7 separate regions of the Homo sapiens genome follow, and all the other regions are linked to region 3. Evidence: fine-mapped expression QTL. A gene starts in region 3. Each other region holds a variant in brackets. All regions are shown on one strand. Distances are from middle to middle.

The links.
Region 1: its variant is fine-mapped to the expression of CTSK in whole blood (INTERVAL, PIP above 0.99).
Region 2: its variant is fine-mapped to the expression of CTSK in whole blood (TOPMed, PIP above 0.99).
Region 4: its variant is fine-mapped to the expression of CTSK in whole blood (TOPMed, PIP above 0.99).
Region 5: its variant is fine-mapped to the expression of CTSK in whole blood (INTERVAL, PIP above 0.99).
Region 6: its variant is fine-mapped to the expression of CTSK in whole blood (TOPMed, PIP 0.99).
Region 7: its variant is fine-mapped to the expression of CTSK in T cells (TOPMed, PIP above 0.99). The same link has a PIP of 0.9 or more in blood mononuclear cells.

What each region holds. Positions count from the first base shown.
Region 1 is chr1:150,931,118-150,935,183 of GRCh38, forward strand. All of the region lies in intron 3 of SETDB1 (SET domain bifurcated histone lysine methyltransferase 1), which reads left to right. Among named protein-coding and RNA genes, the nearest start is that of SETDB1, 6.8 kb to the left of the region's middle. The variant C/CTTTTTTTTTT (reference allele first, on the strand shown) is at 2,251.
Region 2 is chr1:150,561,506-150,565,565 of GRCh38, forward strand. It overlaps ADAMTSL4-AS1 (ADAMTSL4 antisense RNA 1), which reads right to left. Exons shown (of 4, transcript NR_104133.1): 3 at 1,597-1,712. Among named protein-coding and RNA genes, the nearest start is that of ADAMTSL4-AS2, 5.8 kb to the left of the region's middle. RefSeq lists enhancers at 282-461, 288-1,139, 1,140-1,993, 1,342-1,621, 1,892-1,941. The variant A/G (reference allele first, on the strand shown) is at 2,368.
Region 3 is chr1:150,806,365-150,810,430 of GRCh38, forward strand. CTSK (cathepsin K) reads right to left here and starts at 1,896. Exons shown (of 8, transcript NM_000396.4): 1 at 1,850-1,896; 2 at 322-442. The coding sequence starts at 441. It overlaps ARNT (aryl hydrocarbon receptor nuclear translocator), which reads right to left. Exons shown (of 22, transcript NM_001668.4): 22 at 3,349-4,066.
Region 4 is chr1:150,861,842-150,865,907 of GRCh38, forward strand. All of the region lies in intron 1 of ARNT (aryl hydrocarbon receptor nuclear translocator), which reads right to left. Among named protein-coding and RNA genes, the nearest start is that of ARNT, 13 kb to the right of the region's middle. The variant T/C (reference allele first, on the strand shown) is at 2,122.
Region 5 is chr1:150,628,278-150,632,343 of GRCh38, forward strand. It overlaps ENSA (endosulfine alpha), which reads right to left and starts at 1,335. Exons shown (of 4, transcript NM_004436.4): 1 at 1,137-1,335. The coding sequence starts at 1,193. It overlaps LOC112268239 (a long non-coding RNA gene), which reads left to right and starts at 1,542. Exons shown (of 2, transcript XR_007066603.1): 1 at 1,542-2,225. RefSeq lists enhancers at 1,050-1,319, 1,062-2,029, 2,030-2,999. The variant C/A (reference allele first, on the strand shown) is at 1,749.
Region 6 is chr1:150,829,926-150,833,991 of GRCh38, forward strand. It overlaps ARNT (aryl hydrocarbon receptor nuclear translocator), which reads right to left. Exons shown (of 22, transcript NM_001668.4): 9 at 2,409-2,474; 10 at 1,893-1,978; 11 at 1-55. Among named protein-coding and RNA genes, the nearest start is that of CTSK, 24 kb to the left of the region's middle. The variant G/C (reference allele first, on the strand shown) is at 2,083.
Region 7 is chr1:150,785,509-150,789,574 of GRCh38, forward strand. No RefSeq gene overlaps it. Among named protein-coding and RNA genes, the nearest start is that of CTSK, 21 kb to the right of the region's middle. The variant AAAC/A (reference allele first, on the strand shown) is at 1,650.

The sequences.
Region 1 (4,066 bases), 120 kb after region 3:
GGCATGGTGGTGCACCCCAGTAATCCCAGCTACTTGGGAGGCTGAGGTGGAAGGATCTCTTAAGCATAGGAAGTTGAGGCTGCAGTGAGCTGTGATTGTGCCACTGCACTCCAGCCTGGGTGACAAAGCAAGACTCTTGTCTTCAAAAAAAAAAAAAAAAAAAAGGGTTTCCAGAACAGACATCCTGGCCAGGCGTGGTGGCTCACGCCTGTAATCCCAGCACTTTGGGAGGCCAAGGAGGGCGGATCATGAGGTCAGGAGATCCAGACCATCCTGGCTAACACGGTGAAACCCCATCTCTACTAAAAATACAAAAAATTAGCTGGGCGTGGCGGCGGACGCCTGTAGTCCCAGCTACTTGGGAGGCTGAGGCAGGAGAATGGCGTGAACCCAGGAGGTGGAGCTTGCAGTGAACAGAAACCACACTACTACATGTATACATATGTAACTAACCTGCACAATGTGCACATGTACCCTAAAACTTAAAGTATAATAAAAAAAAATTAAAAAATAAAAAATAAAAAAAATAAAGATAAACCAAAAAAAAAAAAAAAGAAACCACACTACTGCACTCCAGCCTGGGCGACAGAGTGAGACTCTGTCTCACCCAAAAAAAAAAAAAAAAAAAACAGACATCCTTTTCTTCTTCCTGATGTTGATATGAAAGCATTTGGTGTTTAACCATTAATTATGTTAGCAGTAGGTTTTCTATAGATGTCATTTATTAAATTAAAGGAATCCCCTTCTAATCCTAGTTTGAGAGATTTTATCATAGCCTAATTGGATTTTGGATTTTGTCAGCTTTTTCTGTATCATTCTCCTATGTTCCTTTTGTCTTTTATCATATTAAGAATGTATTACAGTAGTTGTTTTTTTAGATGTTAAACCAACCTTGCATTCCTGGAGTAAACCAGCCTTGGTCTTGATGTATAATTCTTTTTATATGTTGCTGGATTGGATTTGCTGATTTAAAAAAAAAAGATCTTGGCTGGATGCTGTGACTCATGCCTGAAATCCCAGCACCTTGGGAGGCCGAGTTGGGCAGATTGCTTGAGCCCAGGAGTTCAAGACTAGCCTGGGCAACATGGTGAAACCCCTTCTCTAATTTTTTTTTTTTTAAAAAAAAAGAAAGAAAAAAATTTTTACATCTGTTTCATGAGGGCTATTGGTTTATAGTTCTGTTGTGGTGTCCTTGTTTGGCTTTGGTAGCAGGGTAATATAGGCCTTGTAAATGAGTTGAGAAGTGTTCCCTCCTCTGAGTTTGTATGGAATGATATTTCTTCCTAAAAAGTTTGATAAATTCAGTGCTGAGGCCATTTAGGCTTGGACTTTTCTTTGTGGATTTTTAAAATCTTTTATTTTGGAATAATTTTAGATTTATAGAAAAATTGAAAAAGTAATAGAGTTCCTATATATCCCTCATCTAGTACATATGTCAAAACTAAGAAGCAAACACTGGTATATTACTTTTATATAAACTTCAGGCTTTATTCAGCTTCTGGACTTTTTCTGTTCCATGATCTAATCCAGGATATCACATTAAATATATTTCCAGTGTGATGTTTATTTTCTTCCTTTTACTTACTGGGTTTGATTTGTTCTTCTTTTTCTAGCCTCTCAAAGTGGAAGCTTACAGGATTGATTTTAGACCTTTCTTCCTTTCTAATATAAGCTCTAAAGCTATTTATTTCCCCGTAAGCATTGCTTTGCTGCATCTCATAAATTTTTTTCCATACAGTGTCACTCTCAGGATATCATACTTTTTTTATGTTGTGTTTTCAGCTTCATTAAACTTGGCATCATTTTTAATTTTCCTTGTGGTTGTTTGATTTCTAAATATTTGGGGTTTTTTTGATATCTTTCTGTTGTTAATTTTTAATTAATTTTATTGTGTTCAGAGAATATACTTTGTATAATTTTAGTCTTTTTGAATGAATGAATGAATGAATGAATTGATTGATTGACAAGGTCTCACTCTGTTCCCCAGGCTGGAGTGTGATAGCATGATCATAGTTCACTGCAGCCTCAACCTCCTGGGCTCAAGTGATCCTCCCACGTCAGCCTCCTGAGTAGCTGGAACTAAAAGTACATGCCGCCACGCCCAGCTAACTTTTTTTTTTGTAGTAGAGATAAGGTCTCACTATGTTGCCCAGGCTGGTCTCGAACTCCTGAGCTCAGGCAATCCTCCTGCCTTGGCCTCCCAAGGTGCTGGGATTATAGGCCTTAGCTACCATGCCTGGCCTATTTTGT[C/CTTTTTTTTTT]TTTTTTTTTTTTTTTTTGAGACAGTCTTGCTCCATTGCCCTGGCTGAAGTGCAGTGGCATGATCTCACTGCAACTTCTGCTCACTGCAACCTTTGCCTCCTGGGTTCAAGCAATTCTCCTGTCTCAGCTTCCTGAGTAGCTGGGACCACAGGCACGCGCCATCACACCCAGCTAATTTTTGTACTTTTAGTAGAGACAGGATTTCTCTGTGTTGGCCAGTCTTGTCTTAAACTTCTGACCTTAGGTGATCTGTCCACCTAAGCCTCTCAAAGTGCTAGAATTACAGGCGTGAGCCACTGTGCCTAGCCCTATTTCTTCTTTGTTGCCTTCTTAAAGTCAAACAAACATTTCAGAAAACCACTGTCATTCTTCTGATTTTTCTTTTTCTTTTTCTTTTTCTTTTTCTTTTTCTTTTTTTTTTTTTTTTTTTTGAGATGGAGTTTTCGCTCTTGTTGTCTAGGCTGGAGTGCAATGGCAGGATCTCTGCTCACTGCAACCTCCGCCTCTTGGGTTCAAGCGATTCTCCTGCCTCAGCCTCCTAAGTAGCTGGGATTACAGGCATGCACCACCATGCCTGGCTAATTTTGTATTTTTAGTAGAGACAGGGTTTCTCCATGTTGGTCAGATTGATCTCAAGCTCCCAACCTCAGGTGATCCACCTGCTTCGGCTTCCCAAAGTGCTAGGATTACAGGAGTGAGCCACCACACCCGGCCCCTGATTTTTCTTTTTTTTAGCTTTCATAAAAGGGGTTGCATCTGTACCTAATCATAATCTATTACAAATTAATACTGACTTAATTCTGGTAAAAATACAGCCATTTTGGCTGGGCGCGGTGGCTGACGCCTGTAATCCCAGCACTTTGGGAGGCCGAGACGGGCAGATCACGAGGTCAGGAGATCGAAACCATCCCGGCTAACACGGTGAAACCCCGTCTCTACTAAAAATACAAAAAAATTAGCTGGGCGTAGTGGCGGGCACCTGTAGTCCCAGCTACTTGGGAGGCTGAGGCAGGAGAATGGCGTGAACCTGGGAGGCGGAGCTTGCAGTGAGCCAAGATCGCACCGCTGCACTCCAGCCTGGGCGACAGAGCGAGACTCCATCTCAAAAAATATATATATATACACAGCCACTTTGCACCAGCATACTTCTACTTTCACTCTCTTCCTGTGTGATACTATTGTCAAATATATTATAGCTACATGTTTAAAGCCAATAATCTAGTGTTATAATTACTGCTTTAAGCAGTCTCATGTTTAAAGAAGGTAAGGGAAGAAAAGAAAAATATGTATTTACCCAGATATTTATCACTTCTGTTGCTCTTCATTCCTTCCTGTGGATCTGAGTTATCATCCAGTGTCATGTTTTTCCAGCCAGACGGTTTCCTTTAATATTTCTTGCAGTACAGTTCTGCTGACAGTGGATTCCCTCAATCTTCGTTTACCCAGGATATAGAATTTTTTTTTTTTTTTGTGACAGAGCTTTATTCTTGTTGCCCAGGCTGGAGTGCAGTGGTGAGATCTCAGCTCACTGCATCCTCCACCTTCCAGGTTCAAGCAATTCTCCTGCCTCAGCCTCCCAAGTAGTTGGGACTACAGGTGTGCACCACCACGCCCGGCTAATTTTGTCTTTTTAGTAGAGACAGGGTTTCGTCATGTAGTTCAGGCTGGTCTCAAACTCCTGGCCTCAGGTGATCCACACGCCTTGGCCTCCCAAAGTACTGGGATTACAGGCGTGAGCCACTGTGCCCGGCCCTACCTGGGATATAGAATTCTTGATTGACAGAGTTTTCTTTCAGTACTTCAAATACGCCATCC
Region 2 (4,060 bases), 240 kb before region 3:
TCCTACTCGCTTCTCTCAAGGTAGAGAACTTGCTAGAGGCGGCCTGAGAGGGGCAGGCCTTTGCCATCACATCCTCTCCCAGACCCCTGCCATTCGGAGACTGAGGCCGAGTCTCTCCTGGAAGCCGGGCTGCCCAGGAGGGGCGGTGCCGCAGGAGCGCCCCCGCTCGCGACTCCACAAGCCCAGCTGAGCACGGCCGGGAATACGGGGCCTGCGGAAACAGTGAACTCAGTGGCTGCTGTTTTCTGAGCACCTGAACCCTGTGGGGGACGACAGAGTTGCCCGAGGCGGCAGGATGTCCCCACACTCGCGGTCCCCCGCACATCTTCCTGTTGCTTTGGGACTCGGGCTTTCTCTGGGTTGAAAGTGGCTGAGAAGGAAGAATTTGGACATCTTAAGAGGAGAGCGAGTGGGGAAGGAGGCAAAAGGGAATGGAGAAGGAAGATAAAACTGACGTCAGCCCAGGGCAGGGAGCGAGGAAAGGGGGCCACAAGGAAAGCCCAGTTCCAACGTCTCTGCTGAGCCTAAAGAGGCCTCAGCAGGGAATCACAGATGTGGGGGGCCAGGGAAACGGGATCCGAGCCCGCCCAGTAGGTATAGAAGGCCGAAGGCAGAGTCCTGAGACCCAGGGAGGGGTGGGGTGGAGGCTGGGGCCCTCCCAGCGATTCCTGGAAGCCCAGAGCTGGGCGGTGCCGGCTCAGCTGACTTCCCCGAAGCTCCCCTCCCTCTGCTCAGGGCTGTTGCTGGGCAGGTTTGGCGTTTGCCCTGAGCCTGAGAACCAATCGCAGGTGGAGGTGCGGTCGCAGCCCCTCGCAGGGCTCCCCGGCTTCAGCACCCCCTTTCTCTTTCTGCCCGCCCATGAGCTCCCTCTCGGCCTCCAGCCTCTGACCTCTCAGGAGGTGGGCTCTCCTCTGGGGGTCTGCTCCCTTTCCCCTCTTATTTTAGAGCTAGGACTCAGTGCAGCCCCTAAGGATTCCTTCCTCTGGTCACTGAGGTCATTATGGGGTCAATGCGGAAGTTCTCAGGAAAGGGAACCCGACCCCAAGCAATCCCTTTTCTTGGCCCCGTAGAGGGGAGTAGTGTGGCCAGACACCTGTTCGCTGACCTCTGAAACCCTCTGGGGGGACTTGGGAGAGCAGAAGCTGCAGCCTGAGGGCAGAGGAATGTGGGGAGGGCCCCTGGGTTTGGTGCACTAGTGGGAATTTAGGGAAGGACTCAGAGGAACTGGACCCCTGAGAATTGAGATGAGGGTGGGGTGGTGATAGGAACAAACTTGATATGCACAAGAGAGATCAAGCATGCAAAAGGCCTGCAAATTGTTGAGGATGCCTCCTTTCTGAGGGTGTGCTGGGGGAGGGGGTTGTGGTTTGAGTATCAGTGACACTAGGGGTGATCTGTGCTCTCACAAGTTCAGCTGGGTCAGGATTCCTCTCCCCTCCCCCTCCCAGCTTCCCCAGGGTAAATACCCACCCAATTTAAGTTGCAGCTTTTGGACTAAATTTAGCTCCTGGACTTCCCCAACCCCCAGGCCTCCCTGTAAGCAGGTGCTCACAGCTGCAGCATGGGTCTGGTGGAGAGTTTGAACCTTCTCCTCACCTCCACTCATCCAGATTCCACCTTTCTGGTAACTAGGAGTGAAGCAGAGCACAGGAATCCAGTGGCTGGCCCAGGGCATAAGTGTCTCAGCCTTAAGCCACCTTCTCCCAGGAAACCTGTAAGAGAAGAGCTCTGGTGGGAGACTCTAGATGGACATGGAGGGTGGTGGGGTGTAGAGAGAACAAGATGCCAGGAGAGCCTCCCTCCAGATTCTCTCCAGCCAGACCCTCTCTCATTCCTTGCTCTCCCCTTGTCCCCAGGTTTACAAATAGAGACTTCATGTTAGCATCTTCCCCACCAGAGTAAACTGACCCAGGAAGCCCTCTCCTCTCTTTGAACCATGGAGAATCATGCTACCGTAGAAATTATGGTTTGGGGAGGTGTGTGTTTCAAGTAGAGGTGGTTTGCCACAGGTAGGTGATGAAGAGCTGTCAGCTTTAAAGGGCAGAGACACCGTCTAAAGGAAGTAGAAAGCCTCAGGAAAGTACCTAAGTCTAAGTCTGTCAACAAGAGACAGAAAAAGTTTGGGTTAACCTCAAAGTAGCCAGCATAAACCCTGAATCTGACTTTTGGGCTTCCTGACCTAGGAGACTGGGAAAACTCAAGAGGGTGTTTCAGGGCTGAGTCTGAAGGAAGAAAGGATTTGAGGGAGGAATGTATAAGATTAGTCCAAAACAAGGTATGCACGAGATATGGCAGTCAGATGCCAGGGAGCCATCAGCTCTGCCAGCTGAAGGGGAGGTGCAGAGTTGGCTGGAAGCTGGCCAGAGC[A/G]GAGCATTTCTCCTGTGAGCACTGGAGAGCTGTGCTGAGAGGCCTGGGAAGAGCCCTGTGCTGGGGGAGGAAGGCTAGGTTGGGTCGGCATGTTTGTGTGCTGTACTCTTCTGAGCCTTACCTGAATCTCTTGAGATAGCTCCACTGAACTTTGAGTGAAGAGGAAAAGAAACTGGGGGAAAGAGGGTGGGATTATAAAAAAAGGAGCAGACTGTACCCCTGGGATCCCTAGGCTAAAAGGCCCTCCCCTTGATGAGACAGGCAGAGATCATCTCCCCTGGAACAAGGTCACCCTTCCTCTCTCCCATCGCTACATTCCTCTCCTCCTTACTGTTGACTATTGGTTGCCTGCCTCTTTCATCACAAAATGAGACTCCTCTTTAGCTTTAGTAGAGGGTTGGGCAAACTTTTTCTCTACAGGAGTAGATGATAAATATGTTAGGCTTTGCAGGACCTATCATCTCTGTTGCAGCTTCTCTACTGTAGCAGCACAAAGCAGCCATAGACAATAAGTAAACAAATGGGCGTAGCTGTGTTCCAATCAGACTTGTGACACTAAAGTTTTAAATTTTTCTTTTTTTTTTTTTGAGACAGGATCTTGCTTTGTTGCCCAGGGTAGAGTGCGGGGGTGGGGCGCAATCATAGCTCACTGCAGTTTTGACCTCCAGGGCTCTAGCCATCCTCCTGCCTCAGCCTCCCAAGTAGCTGGGACCACAGGTGCAGGTCACCACACCCAGCTAATTAAAAAATTTTTTTTTGTAGAGACAAGGTCTCACTGTGTTGCCCAGGCTGGTCCTGAACTACTAGGCTCAAGCAGTTCTCCCACCTCAGCCTCCCAAAGTGCTGGAATTACAGGCATGAGCCACTGTGCCCGGCCCATTTTTTTCAACCATTTAAAAATACCAAAATGATTCTTAGCTTGTGGGCCATACAAAAACAGGCAGCAGGGCAAATTTGGCAGGGAGGTGGTTTCTGACCCTGGGGATTTTTCCTAACTGGTGACTTCTGCTCTGCCTAGCCATAGAAAGTCCTGTTTGTGTCTCTTCCAGGCCTCAAAATACAGCTGTAGAACCTTTTAATTCAACATACTCTACTGATGCCTGGTTCTTAATTGCTTCTCCTAGGGAATTTAAGGACTTGAAAATGGTTAATAGAGTAAACCCTTAAGGGACAGTCCTGAAACTCCTTCTATTTGTGTAGTGCTTTAAGGTAAAAGCACAAAGCACGTGTATCAATAGTCTCTCTTTAAATCTTTGCGGTAATAAGATAGCTGACAGTATCGTTAAGTCCTGTTTATAGGGGAGAAAATTAAGGCTTCAGATCTAGTTTCTTCACTTTTTTTTTTTTTTTTAGATGGAGTTTTGCTCTTGTTGCCCAGGCTGGGGTGCAATGGTGTGATCTCGGCTCACTGCAACCTCCGCCTCCCGGGTTCAAGCAATTCTACTCACTCAGCCTCCCAAGTAGCTGGGACTACAGGCATGTGTCACCACGCCTGGCTAATGTTGTATTTTTAATAGAGACAGGGTTTCACCATGTTGGTCAGGGTGGTCTCGAACTCCTGACCTCAAGTGATCCACTCGCCTCGGCCTCCCGAAGTGTTGGCATTACAGGCACCACGCCTGGCCAAAAACACTTTTAAAAATTTATTTTTGGTTAGACACGGTGGCTCACGCCTGTAATCCCAGCACTTTAA
Region 3 (4,066 bases):
CCTGCAAGAAGAGATAATATGTAAACAAATACAACACAAAGCTCTGGAGAGACAGAAAAATTGCTTATAGATTAACAGCATTAATCTTAGAACTCTTCCCAAAAGAGAAATGTAACACACTTATAAAGCAAAGGAAGGATACAGTTTGACAGAGGATGATTTGAAGCATAGGAATGAAAACCGTATGTTAACATGAGTTAGGGAAGAGGGACTGATTTGCTTGGAATAAAGCATTTGGATTGAAGAAGGGAGTCTGGAAGCTAAGATGAGAGAGCTCAGGTCTCAGCCTTCCTGCCATGCCCCCTCCAGGACCCCAGGCACCTTGTTGTTATATTGCTTCCTGTGGGTCTTCTTCCATAGCTCCCAGTGGGTGTCCAGTATCTCCTCAGGGTACAGAGCAAAGCTCACCACAGGTAGCAGCAGAACCTTGAGCCCCCACATCCTGCAGAAGAATGTAGTTAGGGAAAACTCTTCCATTTGGCAGGGAAACAGAGGAAAACTAGGCTTTATGAGGAAGAGAAAGGTAGACGGAAAAAGGGTGATAAAACAATGATAGTCAGGAGGGGCCTGTGTTTAGATAGGATGCTGGTACATCTGGTTCCAAGGACTTTGATCTAGGGGGATTTAGCCATTTCTCTCTTTCTCTCTCTCTCTCTCTCTCGGGAGATTTAGGCAACACACACTCTCTCTGTTTCTCTCTCTGTCTCTCTCTCTCTCACACACACACACACACACACACACACACACACACACACACACACGTACACAACCAGAAATGGGGGATAGAAACTGGACAATCAGAATGGGCTCAGTGCGTTTCCTCCAGGGTCCCTAGCAGGCTTGGAGACAGACAAATAGCAAGGTGGTAGTGGGGTTCAGAATACACAAAGGAGAGATTTCCGTCTAAGTTTTGCCTCCTGATCATTTCTTCGAGGCGTTCTTCTCTTTCGTGCCTAAATTCTGGTACTTTCCCAGATCTTGTCAGAAGAGGACAAGGGAAAATAGGACAATGTTTCCTGTTTTCTGAGACATTGTATATCTCCTCATTCTCCTTATGCATTTCTTCTTCCTTTTTCTCTCCCTTCCCTCCTTAGGCAGGAAACTGCCCTAATCTTAACCAGATGCTGCGGGCAAGGTTTTTTATTTTTCCCCTAACAACAAAAACCCACTGTGGCTGCCGCAAAGGACAAGAAGCCTCAGATCCAAGGTTTGTTAGAAGAATGTTCAGACTGAAAAGCAATGTTCTATGATGATGAAATTCACAGCTTTTCATAAGTTTACTCTAGTTAGCTTCACTCATTTCTTGCATTGGCTTTCTTAATTACAAATCCTCCATTTTAAGAACAATTTGCAGCCTGCAGCATGACATATGGCTTACACAATTGCTTATAGTCCATTTACATGTAATTTTGCAAACTGGCAAAATGTCCAGTAGGACATTTAAAAACTAGAGTGTTAAGGGCTTTGAGATGTCTCAGTGAACAGGAAGCACTGAGCTACTACCTCCCCATACCACTCTCCTCCTCCTCACTAAGGAGTTAACCGTTTTGATCCTTGTTGGCCAAAGTAGAAAACACTGCAGAAAGGCCACTCTTGAAGGATGGGGAAATGATTCCCTATATACTTTGCTTTTACTAACAATCATGTATGTATATATATAAATCATACAAGGAATTCTACAGATTTCCAGGCAGATTTTATTTAGCCAGGGAATGACCTAAGAAGTGCATCTCTGTTTTCATCTGCAGAGGCTAAAAGTTTATTGTGATCCTCAAGTCACTACATCCCTAATACTCAGAGAATTGACAGGAATGAAAAGCTAAAAGATCTAGGAAGTTGCAAACGTTACCTGCTGATGGAAATCTGTTGTCTGGCTTCGTTTCGGCAGCAAAGTGTGGGCACACCATCAGGGGTGCTAGATTTATTCCATCGGGATTGCGGAAGTCAGCTCCAGTGATCGGCTGGAAAATTTGGGTAAGAGGAGGAGGCGGGGATAGAAATGCTGAGAGAAGGAAGGGTAGGGAGGAGGGAAGGAGGCAGTGGATTTGCAGTGTTTCTGTGTGTATGCAGCATGTGTGCCAGGGTAGGGAATTACTAGCTATTTAGTCTCACAAGACTGTCTTTGGTGGCAAATAACAAGACCTCAATATCTATTGACTCAAATAGGAGCTTACTTTCTCTTTTGGTGAGTAAAAGGAAGGACACAGCCCTAGTCTCTCCCATCCTTCTTCTTCAATATCTTTATTTTAATATTGGGGGATTATATCTTTTCCTACCCCTTTCCTGTTAGGATTTACCTCTCCAACATTGAAACCTATTTTCATATTTGTGTCTGACTCTCACCTCTGGGATGCGGTAATGAACATAAAAGGCTATAAAAGAATAATGTAATGGAAGCCATAGGCTCCAGAATTCTTTGTATTTTTATAAGCTTGTTGGTTGCAAGTTGTCATTACTTCCAGGCAGAATAGTTTTCCCAGCCTAATGTGGTTTTGCTGAAGGAGGATATGCCCAGAAAGTCCAGATGAAACTGTCTTTAAAAGTAACCAAAAACAGCAGTCCTGGTTATTTATGACAGCACTTGAATCAATGCCGTAAGTTCTGATGGACTCACATGTGACTCTGTTGCTAAAACTCTCAGGTGGTGGGATGCCCGATAAACATCATCTGTCTCAATTAAAATCCCCAATCTAGGACAAGTCACATGAGCTTCTCCAAATGCTTCCCCAACATCCAAGCATGTGACAGATCATAAGAATCTAGCTGATTCCTCAAACCACACCCCAAACTTCATTTTCTTCCATAAACAGATGTGGGGAAGGAGAAAAAAAGGCTTCTTGGAATAGAAAGGATAATAAATGGGATCTGTAATAGACTCAGTTTCTAGCTGGATTCCATGCATAAACCCTCAAAAATACAGGCTTATGCCTCTGGATTTTAAGAGCTGCTAACAGGCTAGGCGCAGTGGTTCACGCCTGTAATCCCAGGCCTTTGGGAGGCCAAAGCATGTGGATCACCTAAGGTCAGGAGTTCGAGACTAGCCTGGCCAACATATAGTGAAACCCCATCTCTACTAAAAAAAAAAAACACAAAAATTAGCTGGGCATGGTGGCACACACCTGTAGTGCCAGCTACTTGGGAAGCTGAGGCAGGAGAATTGCTTGAACCCAAGGGGCAGAGGTTGCAGTGAGCCAAGATCGTGCCACTGCACTCCAGCCTGGGTAACAGAGCGAGACTCCATCTCTCACACACACACACACACACACACACAAAAAAAAAAAAAAAAAAAAAAGTTGCTAATGAACCAACATAGTCTCCTAGAGGGAAACCAGGTCCAGACTTGAACAGTTTAAATTTCACTCATTTTAATCCAGAAAAGGACATACTGGGGGAAGGCATCCAGATGTGCCCTAGTGGTTTTCAAGTCCCGACTCTTCCCCTCTCTCCCAAGAACCCAGGCAACGCCCACCCCAAAACCCCCACCTCATGGTCAGAGCATTCCTGCTGATGTTACTCAGAATGTGTCAGGATCAGGAGGACAAGTGAGGGGGGAGGCGTGCAATGTGATCAGAACCCTATGATTTCTGATTCCTGAAATTAAAGACACAATGTGCCTTATGTTTGTATGTCTGGAGCTTAAACTATAGATTCCTCTGGTTGTGGGTGCCTGTTGTTTATGAACTGGAAAGGAATGATAAAGCCGCAATCAAGATCACACAACACAAGAAATTTTACAAAAGGAAAAAATATTTTGTTTGAAAATCTTTGCTACATGTCATTATTTTTGCCACTGTAAAGCTTAGCACAGATGCCAGCAATACAGAAATGGCCAACAAGAAAACAAAACAGTCAAAAATAAAACCCTGAAGGAAAAGCAAAAACAAAACCCCCAGAGCATCTTCTCGCTATCCTCCCCTTCCCCAAAAGCCCTATAATAACTGTACAATATTATAGTCCTGATCACATTTAAAAAGTCGATTATTAAAAAACAAGGGTTCCATTGGAAACTCAACTTTTTGGTTTCGTAAATTGTGATATAAATATATATGTATACTGTAAGTGTGCA
Region 4 (4,066 bases), 55 kb after region 3:
GTACAGTGTTCTGTAAATTACATAATATCCAGTACTTTATTATAAAGTAGAATTTAAGTTAGATTATTTTGCCCACTGCAGGCTAATGTAAGTATTCCACACACATTTAAGGTAGTCTAGGCTAAGAATAGGTTAAGTGTATTAAATGTATTTTTGACTTAGGATGTTTTCAATTTACAATGGGTTTATCAAGCCATAACCCCACCATAAGTACAGATGTACTTATTCTGAACTTTTTCCCTTCCACGTAACAATATATTGCTATGGCAATAAATACACACGTAGATCATTCTTTTTAACAGTTACATAGTACTCTGTACTATAAATGTATAGTTATGACATTCAAACCTTCACTATTATAAATAATGTTTCAAGGAACATCATTGTGTATCTTCATGCACAGGTGCCAGTACTTCCATATTATTTCTGAAAATGACTCCCTGGGCCTAAGGGTAGACACATTTAAAACTCTGATTGCCCATTACCTGCCAAGGAGGTTATACCAATTTAAAGCCTCATCCACTGCATCAATTTAGCCATACCTCCAACAGCACTGTGTTTTGGGAATCCTTCAAATTTGTGGTCATTTTCTTGGTAAAAAACAATTACCACTGTTAGTTTAACATACATTAAGGCTGAGTATATTTTTATGTTACTGCTAATTTTTCTATTTCAGCCTATAAATTTGAAATAGTAAGCATATGTTACTTTCCTAAGAAAAAACACTTTTTCCATTAAAAAAAAAAGTTCAGGGCCAAGTGCAGTGGCTCATGCCTATAATCCCAGCACTTTGGGAGGTCAAGGCATGAGGATTGCTTGAGCTCAGGAGTTCAAAACTAGCCTGAGCAACATAGTGAGATCCTGCCTCTGTAAAAAAAAAAAAAAAAAAAAAAAAGTTCATACTTTTAGTAATACGTTTATATAGGATATAAGAGTACCATGGAGTCAAACCTGTAATCCTAGCACTTTGAGAGGCCGAGGCAGGCAGATCACGACATCAGGAGTTCGAGACCAGCCTGGCCAATATGGTGAAACTCCGTGTCTACTAAAAATACAAAAATTAGCCAGGCATGGTGGCGCACACCTGTAGTCCCAGCTACTCGGGAGGCTGAGGCAGAAGAATCGCTTGAACACAAAAGGCGGAGGTTGCAATGAGCCAAGATCGTGCCACTGCACTCTAGCCTGGGTGACAGAGCAAGATTCCGTCTCAAAAAAAAAAAAAAAAAAAGATTACCATGGAGGCCAGGCACGGTGGCTGATGCCTGTAACCCCAGCACTTTAGGAGGCTGAGGTGGGTAGATCACTTAAGGTCAAGTTTGAGACCAGCCTGACCAACACGGCAAAATCCCGTCTCTACTAAAAATACAAAAATTAGTCAGGTGTGGTGGTACACGTCTATAATCCCAGCTACTTGGGAGACTGAGGCATGAGAATCGCCTGGGAGGCAAAGGCTGCAGTGAGCCGAGATCATGCCACTGCACTCCAGCCTGGGCAACAGAATGAGACTCTGTCTCAAAAAAAAAAAAAAGAGTGCCAGGTAAATTCAGAGAAGATAATCCTGGTTTAAATTAAGGCCTGGCATAGTACTTGCAGAGAAGATGCTCAATATGAAGAGGAAACTAAAGGAAATAAAGAAGGCAGGCAACCAGCCCATGGGGAAGTTTCAAAAAGGTAAATCAAACTGGGCCTTAAAAAAAGTAAAGGAGACCAGGCACAGTGGCTCACGCCTGTAATCCCAACACTTTGGGAGGCCGAGGTGGGTGGATCACCTAAGGTCAGGAGTTCGAGACCAGCCTGACCAACATGGTGAAACCCCGTCTCTACTAAAAATATAAAAAATTACCAGGCGCCTGTAATCCCAGCTACTCAGGAGGCTGAGATAGGAGAATTGCTTGAACCCAGGAGGCAGAGGTTGCAGTGAGCCAATCGAGCCACTGAACTCCAGCCTGGGCAACAAGAGCAAAACTCCGTCTCAAAAAAAAAAAGTAAAGAAGAAGAAAAAGGCATTCCACATAGATAAAAGTACATGAGCAAGTCTAAAGGGAGATATGAAAATACAGTTATGTATCACTTAACAACAGGGATATGTTCTGAGAAATGTGTCATTAGGAGATTTCAACA[T/C]TGTGTGAATATCATTGAGTATACTTACACAAATCTAGATGGTACAGCCACTACACACCTAGGTATGTAGGTGTATAGCCTACATACCTATATGTAGCCTATTACTCCCAGTAACAGCCTATTACTCCCAACCTGTACAACATGTTACTATACTGAATACTGTAGGCAACTATAACTCAGTGGTAACTATTTATGTATCTAAACATAGAAAAAGTAATGTGTTGTGCTAAGACCTTATGACAACTATGATGTCACTGGGCAATAGGAATTTTTCATCTCCATTATAATCTTATGGGACCACCATCATACATGCAGTCCTTTGATGACCAAAGTGTCATTAGGTGACACATAACAGCAACTGTGAAGAGCTGTAAAGAAAAAGACCTATTGGAACCAACCCAAATGTCCAACAATGATAGACTGGATTAAGAAAATGTGGCACATATACACCATGGAATACTATGCAGCCATAAAAAATGATGAGTTCATGTCCTTTGTAGGGACATGGACGAAATTGGAAATCATCATTCTCAGTAAACTATCGCAAGATCAAAAAACCAAACACCGCATATTCTCACTCATAGGTGGGAACTGAACAATGAGATCACATGGACACAGGAAGGGGAATATCACACTCTGGGGACTGTGGTGGGGTGGGGGGAGGGGGGAGGGATAGCATTGGGAGATATACCTAATGCTAGATGACCAGTTAGTGGGTGCAGCGCACCAGCATGGCACATGTATACATATGTAACTAACCTGCACAATGTGCACATGTACCCTAAAACTTAAAGTATAATAAAAAATAAATAAATAAATAAATAAATAAATAAAAGAAATATGATAAACATATAAATAATATGTGGTGGAATGTAAAAAAAAAATTGCCCCTGAAGAAAACAAAATGGTTTTCTTTAAATCAAAAAAAAAAAAAAAAAGAAAGAAAAAGACCTATAAAAGGTAAGATGTCAAGTGCTAACCAAGAGAAAGCTTTGAATGCCACGATGAAACACCTGGATCAGATTCAACAAAGACAAACATATAACTTTAAGTCTGAGTAACAAGATGAAAATATAAATTAAAATTAATCTGACAGATTTAAAGTTTGAAGTAATAGAAGTAGGAAGACAAGATTAATAAAAAAAACAAGGTGATAAAGGCCTAAATGAGGATGGCACAACGAAAAGGTAGTTACTTCTAAAATTTTAAACTATGCAACTTCTGAGTAAGGATAGTGAATTAAATGTATCTATCTATTTCTACTCTCTTCTCTCTTCACTCACACACAGGAAAAAAATTTTTAAAAGCAAAAATTTTTACACAAGACATAAAACCACAAGGATGGAAAGAATAAGAGAAGAAGAGCAATAATTTTTTTGAAACTAGAGATAAAATGGACTATTGCCTTGGGAGATCGACAAGAACTAAATCCTAAACTGACAAGGGAAAAAGCAGAAAACCAACTCAATTTACGCTATGGAATTCCCCAAAGTCTCAGAAGCTGGTGAGTCCAGGTAACTCTGGGTATGCAGGGTAGGGTGAATGAAGTGAAAATAAGGAGAATTAGTTCAGCATCTGTTTACTACAGAGATGGATTCCTAGATCCTTTTCTCTATTCCTTCTAACCAAGGCAACTACCCCTCTCCATTCTGTCAAAAGACAGATTTACTCTCTGGAGAGTATAAATCAAAGGTCTTACAGTCTAGTGAACACGACGTAAAGGTGAAAGTGAGGGACCCGTACTGAAAACAGGAAAACTAACACCAATGTATGCATACTACATGCTTCATTTTTCTTCTGTGTTATACTGCCTATTTCCTATATTTCGTATCTCCACTTTCTTGGTTTACTATCTCCTACTGGTAGAGCCTATCTTCTAGTGGATTCCTGAAAGGGTGTAAGAAATGCCTTGGATGTATGAAAATATTTCTTCTATTTCACTAAT
Region 5 (4,066 bases), 180 kb before region 3:
CTTCTCCAAAGATCTCCACCTGAGTAATGGCACAGCCTTGCTTCAACATTTCCACAAATATTATGGTAGCAAGCTGATAAACAGAGAGGAAAATGATACTGTTTTTAACCTCAGGAAAACAAAGATACAGTAGGCTCACTAGTATTTACCCACCAGTTTTCATCAAAAAAATCAATACCTACCCTGGTGGTGCAGGGACTCTCACTACTGTAGTCAATCTCTTTTTTTTTTTTTTGTGGTCCCTGCTGCCCTTTAGTGACTTTTTGAAAAGATATGAAGTCAACGTATGACTCTTTTTAGTGGAATTATATTCCTTTCTCTTGGAAATTACGCATAGATATAACACCAAGTGTATTTAATGAGTACCTGAACCCAGTACTAAATTTTAAAAGTCAAATACAAACCCCAATAAGGGGTTTATTTGGCGTTAGTGTTTCCATCACGGAATCGCAGGTGCACTAAGTCCCTGCCTTGGAAGTCTAGGGGAAGAGAGAAGTGTCTTTCTCACGACCCTGTCGGCGTCTTTTCCAAGTTTAATTACCATGATTCTGTTTGGAACTCTAGCCCTCTTCAATATTGCTGGGTCCTCACTGAAGGTGAGCAATAGACCATCCTTAGCTACTAAAATAGGTCTCTTGAGAAAGTTGCCGCCTTAAACTAGCCATTATAATAACTACACTTCTCCCCTCCCCCAATACTGGTTTTTTTTTAAACGTCTTTACCTCGACCCCTATCTTTGCGGATTGAGGCTGCGGGCCCCAGCCCGGTTGCTGGGTCACTTACCTCTACAAACCAATAACACACATCACACCCAAGACCACCAGCCATCCCCTTTCCATTCACCGTCTTTCCAACCACCCGCCCCACGTCCATGCTCGGCCAATTATAGCACAGCGTCCAAGGTTTGAGCGGTAGGCCTATTGGCCAATCAGGAAGAGTACAGTACTGAGTGACAAACGACCCAACTAACCAGCGCCAAAGCAGCATGTCGTGTTGAAGCTCACCCAGCGTGACGCAAAAAGTGGCCAACCCCTGCGGAGCCTGAGACCATGGCGACCAATCCGCACTGGTGGGAGACCGTCTCCCGCCCCATCACGGTCTCCCCAGCTCGCCCGCCCGCACCCCTTCCACTTCACCTGCTTCTCCTCGCCGGTCTCCTCCGCAGGGTTCTCTTCTTCTTGTTTCTGGGACATGGCGGGACCGGGACTGTGGAGTGTAAGGGGCCCGGGAAGGCAACCGGAGAAGGGAAGGGGGAGGGGAAACGGGGACAACCTGCGCTGCTGCTTCGGCTCCTGTCACTAGGGTTGCTCAGTCAAAATGGCGGCCCTTGCCCGTGACGTTGCGACCGCCCCTTCCTATGAGAGCCAGTGGGAGTGAGGTAGATAGGGCAATGACGTAACGATCTACCAATAGTCGCCGTCTAAAGGTGGGCTCTATAGAGGCGACCGGCAAGCTGGAACACCAACCTGGAAAGAGAGTGAGCCACAAGGACCAATTGGAAGCCTGTGGGGGATATCGGGGGCGGGGCTGCTGGCTGTGGTACTTTTGCAGCTTTGGTGGGCTCCGGCTTCCTTCACTCCAGCCCACCGCGTCCGAGAGACTTAGCAGGGCGTCAAACTGGAGAGCGGAAGGATGGAACCTTTTATTCTCAGGTGGAGAGGATTAAGCTTTGCGGTGTTAGCAGAAAATGATCGAGCTCCAGAAAATGATTTGGAGGTCAGATTCGATTTTAAAGTAGTACTAACAGG[C/A]CGGGCGCGGTGCCTCACGCCTGTAATCCTAGCACTTTGGGAGGCCGAGGTGGGCGGATCACCTGAGGTTAGGAGTTCGAGACCAGCCTGACCAACATGGTGAAACCCCGTCTCTACTAAAAATACAAATATTAGCCGGGCGTGGTGGCGGGCGTTTGTAATCCCAATTACTTGGGAGGCTGAGGCAGGAGAATCGCTTGAACCCTGCAGGCGGAGGTTGCAGTGAGCCGAAATCGCGCCACTGCACTCCAGCCTGGGTGACAGGACGAGACTTTGTCGCGAAAAATAAAATAAAACGGTACCAATGGTATTACGATGTGTCACTTGGCCTGTGGAAGAGAGAGACTGAGTCTCAACCCGAGCTGTCTTGCAAAACACTAATGGCTTACGTTCCGTAGTTTCACTCTTATGTGTAGTTTTTATATTCCATCAGGGTGATCCCTTGGGGACTACGCTCCTTGAAACAAGGAGGACAGTGTAAGTATGTGGTAAACATTTGGTAAATACGGTTAATACTAGTTAACCTATCCAGAATTACAGTTTAACATTTCCTGGGCGTCTGTCTGTATGTGGATGGTACTGTGTTAGTTGGGGGGGGTACGTGTATAGTAAGGCAGTCTCTGCCCTTAGAAAGCTTACAGGCCTGGCTGGGCGCGGTGACTCACGCCTGTAATGCCAGCACTCTGGGAGGCGTAGGCGGGCGAATCACTTGAGGTCAGGAGTTCGAAACCAGCCTGGCCAACATGGTGAAACCCTGTCTCTACTAGAAATACAAAACAAGGCTGGGCACGGTGGCCCACGCATGTAATCCCAGCACCTTGGGAGGCCGATGAGGGTGGATCATGATGTCAGGCGATAGAAACCATCCTGGTCAACATGGAGAAACCCCGTCTCTACTAAAAATACAAAAATTAGCCAGGCGTGGTGGCGTGCACCTGTAGTCCCAGCTACTCAGGAGCCTGAGGCAGGAGAATCGCTTTTACCTGGGAGGCGGAGGTTGCAGTGAACCGAGATCGCATCTCGCCACTGAACTCCAGCCTGGGTGACAGTGAGAGTCCGTCTCAAAAAAAAAAAAAAAAAAAGAGTGGCAGATAAGAAGTGCTCTTTATGGAGATAATTTGGTGGTAATGAATAAAAAGACTCAGAATTCCAAGCAGAAAACTACCAGAGATGAACAGTCTAGCCGAGTCCTCTGCAAACGTTAGGTGGGAGATAATTAGGATTTAACCTAGAAACGTAGTAGTTAAGAATAGAAAATAGTGAACCTAACCAAGAGAGTCTGTGACAATGGAATCCACTAGACTAGCAGCTGACTGAATAGAGAATGAGAAGACTGTGTGCCTCAAGGTGATTATTTATAGAAACAATAAATTCAAGAAGAGGAGTCAATTTGGGAATGGAGCTGAAAAGCAGAGAGAAAATAAGGCATTCAGTTTTGAAAACATGGACTTTTTTTTTTTTTTTTTTTTTTTTTTGAGACGGAGTCTCGCTCTGTCACCCAGGCTGTAGTGCAGTAGCACAATCTCAGTTCCCTACAACCTCTGCCTCGCGGGTTAAAGTGATTCTCCTGCCTCAGCCTCCCGACTACAGGTGTGCGCCACCATGCCCGGCTGATTTTTGTATTTTTAGTAGAGACAGGGTTTCGCCATGTTGGCCAGGCTGGTCTCAAACTCCTGAACTCAGGTGACCTGCCTGCCTCGGCCTCCCAAATGCTGGGATTACGGGCGTGAACCACCGTGCCCGGCCTGAAAACATGGACTTTATTAAAAGCGAATGAACCATTTGGTGGAGACATCCAGGCAATGAAGACTTAGGATAAATGACCTCTAAGATCTCCATATCTGAAATTTAAGGGTTCTAGGAAATGTAAGTGTGGGAGTTTGGGAGAAAAGTAGACGCTGAAGATGTACAAATTTTGGACTTTTTCACATAAATGTAAGTAAAGTTGTGGAAGTTGATGGGATCACAAAGGAGAATGTAGGAAAAAAAGAGGTTCCAGTCAGGTGCGGTGGCTTACACCTGTAATCCCAACACTTTGAATGGTCAAGGTGAGAGGATCGCCTGAAGCCAGGAGTTTGAGGTTACAGTGAGCTATGATCATGCCATTGCACTCCAGCCTAGGCAACAGAGTGAACCCGTCTCTTAAAAAAAAAAAAAAAAAAAAAACTCCCAAGACAGAAACGTGGGGAAAAGTTGGCAAAAGACATACAAATGATCAGAGTGGTAGGGAGAGAATTAGAAGAGAGAAGAGCCATGGAAAGCAAATGAAGAAAGGGAGGGCAGGTTGTCAATGTTAAATGTGATACAGAAATTAAAGA
Region 6 (4,066 bases), 24 kb after region 3:
AGGCAAAACTTGCTTCCCTGGCCAGCCTCTGGGTCATCATCTGGGAGGGAAACACCTTCAGAAACGTGACGTTAAAAGGTTTAACGGGGACCTCCAACTCAAATGCCTTCAAAACTCAGACAAGTAAAGATTCAAAATAGACCTATTTATGGGCCAGGCACCGTGGCTGACGCCTGTAATCCCAACACTTTGGGAAGCCAAGGTGGGCGGATCACTTGAGGACCAGCCTGGCCGACACAGTGAAACCCCATCTCTACTAAAAATACAAAAATTAGCCAGGCATGGTGGCATGCACCTGTAATCCCAGCTACTTGGGAGGCTGAGGTGAGAGAATCACTTGAACCCAGGAGGCGGAGGATGCAGTGAGCCGAGATCGCACTACTGCACTCCAGCCTGGGCGACAGACAGAGTGAGACTCCCTCTCAAAAAAAAAACCAAAAAGCAAAACAAAACAAAATACATCTAGTTATGAAGAGGCTAAGCATAAAGCAATAGAGAATGATAAATAAGAATAAACAAGTATATAAAACTTACCATATATGCCAGTCATTGTTTTAAGTATTTACATATATATTAATTCCTACATTTTACCCATGTTAATTATAGTAAACTGGAAAATACAAGTCCTACCCAGAGTACTCTAAAAAACTATGCTGGCCAAATATGGCACATATGAAGACATCCATTCTATGACCATGTTATAGGCAGAAAATTTATGCTTTGCCTAATCTGTAACTTTTAAAGTTAGCAAGCAACCCAAAATGAAGTTATACCAACCATCAATAGTTATTCATGTCCCTTGGAAAAGAGAAAAACCAATGTTTTACACAGAAAGGGAAGAAGACTGCATTTCTCCCCTGTTTTTTGCATAGTTATACTCTTTTTATCCAGAAAAATAGTATTCCTTGATGCTACATAGAGGTATGAAAGATCACATACTTTAACTGTGTGGCTTATATAGTATATAGACTAAGTAGTTCAAATGTCATTACTACTTCAGTTAAATTTTTTTAAATTACATTAATTACTTTTATTGGGTTACCTGCCATATGCCAGGCACTGGGCTGGATGCTTTCCTTACATTAAATCTAATCCTCACAAAAACCCTATACAGGATGTACTAACTCTGAATTACAGATGAGAAAACTGAGCTTTATAAAGGTCAAGCAACTTACCCTAGGTGATGCCACTAATAAGTAACAATGACAGGAATCACATCCAGGTTTCTCCACATCCAAAGTTTAACCTTTTTCCAAAACACATCACCTTGCTTCTCTTTTCTCTTAGTTTCTGTCTCCCCAAAACCCCTACTTTCCAATAATACCCAGGCAGCAGGGAAGTAATAAAGTTGCTAAGATTTGGAAACTCTGACAAGCCAACTTAAAACTTTGATCCTGCAACCCAATCACCTTTCTCACATTCCTTGTTTGACCTCAAGTTCTGGTAAAGCTAATCTGCTCAAAGCTTGATTTAAAGTCTTTGCAGAGAATATCCTCTTGATAAGTTATTACAATAAAGGCATTTTCCCCTTTTCTCTCAAAGTCTTGTTCCTACTTTAGAAATCTTTCTCAAATTAACTGCATTCAATGTCTAAGTTTCTTTGCAACAAATGCTTAGAATACATATGTTCAGTATAAATTTGTTCACATAAAAACCACATTCTGTGACACAGCCAATACTGAATCATTTTCCAGCCTGAGTTATCTATCTCCTCAACTGGAATAAAAGCTCAATAATGGAAGGGAAGGATTGTACATTTTCTTTTCCTATTTTCTTTCATCTTACACAAAAGTACATTTCATATACCAGGTATATAATAAATATTAGCTTTCATGGACTCTGTGAGGAACCAACTGTACCAAGGGGAAATATTTACTATTTCACTTTCTTACCTGCTGGGGGCCAGGCCTTGATGTAGCCTGTGCAGTGGACCACCACGAAGTGAGGTTCCCCATCCTTTACAGAGCCAAGTCCATTCCTAGAAGAGTTACAGGAGTTTGAAAAAAAAAAAAAAAATCTACCCGTAAAACTCAAAGGGCAATGCTGCCTTAGTACTTTTAAGTTTATGCTCTTAGGAGTTTA[G/C]AAAACAGGATAATCATCTTTCCCACCCAAAAATGACCGCCACATTTTTACCCTTGCCAAAGTAAAGTAACCAAAAGGTATGCAGTAGGAGGAAAGTAGGTAAAATAGCATAGCGACTTCCTTAAACAGGATTTTCAAGAGAAGTTTTAGAAGTTTAGGAAAATATTGCCAGAAAAAAAGTAAGTGGGAGGTAAGGGATGTTAAGTGGGAGGTAAGGGATGCAAGTGAGAGCTGCTGAAGGAACGACTACAGTAAGACAGGTAAAAATGTGATGATCTCTGCAGGTATTTGGCCATCCCTTTGGTTTTCACCACTTAGGATCTCACCTGCATCTGTTCCTCACAAAGCTCAGCCTATTCACAGAAACTGGGTCCACAGAGCTACTGCCACACCTGTTTCAAGGAATAAAGAGATTAAAAGCAATCAGACTGCCCTATCAAAGAACTTTCCACAGTAATAGCAGAATAACATGCTCTGGATACAACCAGACATAGAAAATTGGTAATGCTACTAATAATGAAGGATAAAGATAGGTCAAGTTTAGTATTTCTAAAACTTTTAGAATTTGAAGTCAAAATGTTCCATATGTTCTTCATATGCAAACATTCTCAACATCAAGAGTTGGCAAGCTTTTTCTGTAAAGGACCAGATAGTACATATTTTCAGCTTTGCGGGCCAGAAAGTCTGTTGCAACTAGTCAACTCTAGCATTATAGCATGAAAATAGCCATAGATAATATGTAAAAATATGGGCATGGCTATGTTCCAATAAAACTTTATTTACAAATAAAGGGCTGTGGTTTGCTTACTCCTGCTCTACATTAACCACAACTTAATGTAATTGCTACAGTTCATTATTATCTTGCTCTTGCCTATGTCTTTGCATTAGCCATGTCCACATATTGGGATACTCCTGCCAATGCTACTTTCCCTCTCCCTATCCTTTAAAACAAAAATAAAACTTACATAGGGTTAATATGTGTCATGCTCTGTTCTAAATATCTTTACATATATTAATTCATCTAATCTTCATAACAACTTTATAAAGTCAGTATTAACATTATCGCCAATGTGAGATGATGAAATCAAAGCACAATGTAGTCATGTAATCATCCAAGGTTTCAGAAGATAGCATCAAAGCTAGAATTCAAATCCATAGAATATGGATTAAAACAAAATCCAGCAGTCTGGGTCTAGAAGCTACTCTAAATTACACGCTGGGTGCAGTGGTTCAGGCCTGTAATCTCAGCACTTTGGGAGGCTGACGCAGGCGAATCACTTGAGGTCAAGAGTTTGAGGCCAGCCTGGCCAACATGGTGAAACACTGTTTTACTAAAAATACAAAAATTAGCCAGCTGTGGTGGCAATCCAGCTACTCAGGAAACTGAGGCATGAGAATCGCTTGAACCCAGGAGGTAGAGGTTGTAATGACCCAAGATCATGCCACTGCACTCCAGCCTGGGCAACAGAGCAAGACTCTGTCTCAAAAAAATAAATAAATAAAAATAAAAATAAATCACTAAACCACATAATGTTCAATTTTGTGCCTCTCCAAGCAAACCTTTAATATCCTACCCATAATTTCTAGCAACTATCCTCTCAGTACAATGTAGTCAATTTCCATTATATAGCCTGAACTTTGTGACCCTGAGATGCCTTTTGTACCTGTATAGAAAGGACCACCATATTTTCTACAGAATCCTAAAACGTACAGTATATAATTTATAAACACTAAACACCTACTGAAAGACATAGGAAGTCTCAAATTTCTAACCAAAAAAAAAAAGAAGAAATGGTCTGAGTAAATGGATATTGCCTTGTGTTGTAACAGGGAAAAAGTAGAGGTTTTGTAGTCAGACTACTATGAATTAAAACAAAATCCTGTATCAAACAGTATGTAACAGTGGGAAATTCATTTCTTTTTCTTTTTCTTTTTTTTTTTTTTGAGACAGAGTTTCACTCTTTTTGCCTAGGCTGGAGTGTAA
Region 7 (4,066 bases), 21 kb before region 3:
ATGCTTGTCACCCTCTGCACTGTTGACTTGCTTAATGATCCTAATAGTCCTAGCTAACATTAATTGGATGCCAATTATATGCCAATGAGTGTGCTAGACTCTTTGTGCATTATTATTTAATCTTCACAACTCTATGAGGTAGATATTATTATCCTCATTTTACAGAGGAGAAGTTAAACTTCTGAGAGGCTAACTTGTTCAAGAGGACAAAACTGTCCATTGACCTAGAAGTGAACCAACCTTGTTTTTAAAGTAGTGCTTTCCCAAAATTATCGTGTTGCCTCTCTCTTTCTGGAATTTCCTTTTCTCATTTCTGCTGCTTGAAATTCTGCTCCTCCTTAATGGCCCATCTCTGAAAATAGCTCTTACAAAAAGCCTTTCTCGGCCAGGTGCAGTGGCTCACGCCTGTAATCCGAGCACTTTGGGAGGCCGAGGCGGGTGGATCACCTGAGGTCAGGAGTTCAAGACCAGCCTGACCAACACGGCGAAACCCTGTCTCTACTAAAAATACAAAATTAGCCGGGTGTGGTGGCGCATGCCTGTAGTCCCACCTACTCAGGAGGCTGAGGTGGGAGAATTGCTTGAACCCGGGAGTCGGAGGTTGCAGTGAGCCGAGATCGCACATTGCACTCCAGCCTGGGCAACAAGAGTGAAACTCCGTCTCAAAAAAAAAAAAAAGCCTTTCTTTATCCCCAACTGGATGTCACTTTTTGAGCTTCTACCAAGCTTTGAGGCTTTGAGGCTCCTTGTGGCAGACACATAGACTGAGCGCAGAAAAACCATCCTCTTAATTTTCTGTTTAATATGATAATTATTTGTATTTTTGCCTTATGTAACTACCTGTTAGCCCATAAAGTACAGGGGCCCTGTAGCTCCTACTCTTCTTCGTGTCCTCCACAGTATATGATGCGATGGTCAGCAGACACTAAATAAATATTTTCTGATGATTTAAATTATTTCAGCACCTTCATTCCAGTCTGTTGTGGAATCTCATCCTGCACATCACTGCCAAACTGTGCTCCTAAAACACATTTTTATCATGCTGTTTTCTAGAAATGTTTTCTGTTGCCTGCTGCATGAAGTCCTGCGCCCCTGCCTTCCAAGGCTCTTTCCCCATGCTCTGGATCCCTTTCCTGAGCATTTTACTCAATTTGTTTTTGTTTTTGTTTTAAAGAGGGGGTCTCGCTCTGTTGCCCAGGCTGGAGTGCAGTGGCGCGATCTCGGCTCACTGCAAACTCTGCCTCCCTGGTTCAAGCAATTCTCTGCCTCAGCCTCCCGAGTAGCTGGGATTACAGGCACACGCCTCCATGCCAATTTTTTGTAGTTTAGTGGAGATGGGGTTTCACCGTGTTGCCCAGGCTGGTGTTGAACTCCTGAGCTCAGGCAATCTGATGGCTCATGCCTGTAATCCCAGCACTTTGGGAGGCCGAGGCTGGTGGATCACTTGAGGCCAGGAGTTTGAGACCAGTCTGGCCAACATGGTGAAACCACGTTTCTACTAAAAATATAAAAATTAGTGCCTCATCTGTAGTCCCAGCTACTTGGGAGGCTGAGGCACGAGAATCACTTGAATCCAGCAGGCGGAGATTGCAGTGAGCTGAGATCGCACCATTGCACTACAGCCTGGGTGACAGAACAAGACTAGTCTC[AAAC/A]AACAACAACAACAACAAAAACAAACAAACAAAACCCCAGATTTTGAAAACTCAGCCTCTGATGTAGCCATGCTGGTCCCATGGACCTCCCCAGTTGCCCAATCATTCTTGCCTCCTTTCTAGAATGGCTCTCTCCATTCCTTGGCCTCTTTGTTCTGCAAGATCCACTTCAAGTACTGCCTCCTCAGAGCCTTCTCTAACTACCCCAACTCTTCTTCCCTCTAGCTACACTTGCACGATACAAATTGTACCACGAAATTCTGATTCTGTATTTGTAGCACGTAAGATAGTTTTATCTCACTAGCTAACTTGAAAATACAGGATCTTGTCCTACTCATCTTTGTATTGCACTGTGGCTTAACACATATTTAGATAATAATCAATAAACATTCATTGAATTAACTTTTCCTAATTATAATATTCTACATGGTTTGTCTTCATTTCTGGTTCATCATGACTTGGCAGTGGCTTCTGAGGCTTTAAGCCTTAGGTTTCTCTTTGAATCTCCTCCTGGTATGCAAAAGTCTGTAAACACATACAGTGTTTGAATACATTAGGGGAACATGTCATTAGATAATCTATCCTTGTATCACTTAAGGTATTTTATAAACTTACACATCATCCTGTGACATTCCAAAGCTGTAAACTGGATTTTTGCAAAGCTGTAAATTGCCCTGAAATGGGGCACACTTTTTGCAAATTTATTTCAATAGCGATTGAAAACAAAAAAACAAGGCAAATGTTTTGCACAACAGTTGCACAACAACTAAGTCTTATCCAGAATGCTGCACAACACTAAGTCTTATCGGGAATGCAGACTCCCTTTCATCACAAACGAGGCAACATCTCCTGAATAACGTGGAAAAGGAGAAATGAAAGCAAAATAAGGAAGCTTTGTCCCTGCTTGTTACAGTTGTACCTTTTCAAGCTTTTGAAGTAACCATCTCTTAGCTTCATGCCCCCTGAAAATCAGCTGCTTTAAGTTTCTCTGTCTTATTTAGTCTGTGTGTGTGTGTGTGTGTGAGAGAGAGAGAGAGAGAGACAGTCTTGCTCTGTCGCCCAGGCTGGAGTGCAGTGGTGCAATCTCGGCTCACTGCAACCTCCACCTCCACGTTCAAGCAATTCTCCTGCCTCAGCCTCCTGAGTAGCTGGGATTACAGGCGCGCCATCACGCCTGGCTAATTTTTGTTTTTTGTTTTTTTTTGTAATAGAGACAGGGTTTTGCTATATTGGCCAGGCTGGTCTTGAACTCCTGACCTCAGGCGATCTACCTGCCTCAGCCTCCCAAAGTGCTGGGATTACAGGCGTGAGCCACTGCGCCCTACCCTTATTTAGTCTTAAAGAAAAGGATTTTGAATTTTAGGATGATTCATTCCAATGCTAGTTCTAGTCTCTGTTAATTTACCCAAGTGTGCTAGGAATTTAATAACATACATTATTTTCATAATAAAATAGTTTACTTCTTACTGACCTCACTGTCCAAGAAATGCACAAAGGTGAGGTGAGGAATACCCTTCATGGACTATAGGAGAATATGGGACTAGAAAAGACGATTTTACCATAATGTTGAGTTTCCCCTCAATTAACTTTATGTTAATATTATGCAATAACTTTCTGAAGAAAGAAAACAGAATTCTTGAGTCATTAGGGAAAATAGGAATGTTCTGAATTGAAAATATATATTCTTTCTGATATTCTGTGTAGCTTATCTGCTTGGTGCATTATTTGATCCTAGTAGACATCCCCCATTATCCTACAAGTACTCCTTGTCACCTAGCAATGTGTACTCAAAGAAGGAGCTTAATTTTACCAAGAGAACAAAATAAGACATAATTAGGGAGTACTCTAGAAGCCAGTGATAAGACCCCTCCCCTAACAAATGAATAACAATTGGTGTGACACATTTGATGTGTTACAATTAATTACAAAGTAAGTCACAAGAAATGTATTACTAATAAAAAAGTACCAACAGTTTGAAAGTGACATGTTTAACAATTAGAGCCAATTCAGCAGATTATCCCTATAATAATATTATGTTGATAGATGTGCATTCCAGTATGCTTTCTGGGAGAGAGAAGGGGAGAATTATGGGTAGCTACCAACGACTGATATTATTTTGTGAGCGTGTCCGTGGAAATGTGTCGAAAATGTGAACAACATCTGTCTTCTCTATAGTAATATGGGAAAGTTGAGAATAGCTAAGCTAAAAGGTGTTGGAAGTATACTTTTTTTCACCAGCTTCCCTTCCTCCTTCTCGTGGTAACAGCACCCTGATTTTAAAATGGGGAAACCCTGACACTCCTGGGCTTAAGATAGAACCAATCTTGCCCCTAGCTTCAAGAGTGGGCATAGGTCCCAAGGCCAGCCTGTCAAAGTTTTGTATCCCTCCAGCTACAATGACTGGTTGGGGAATG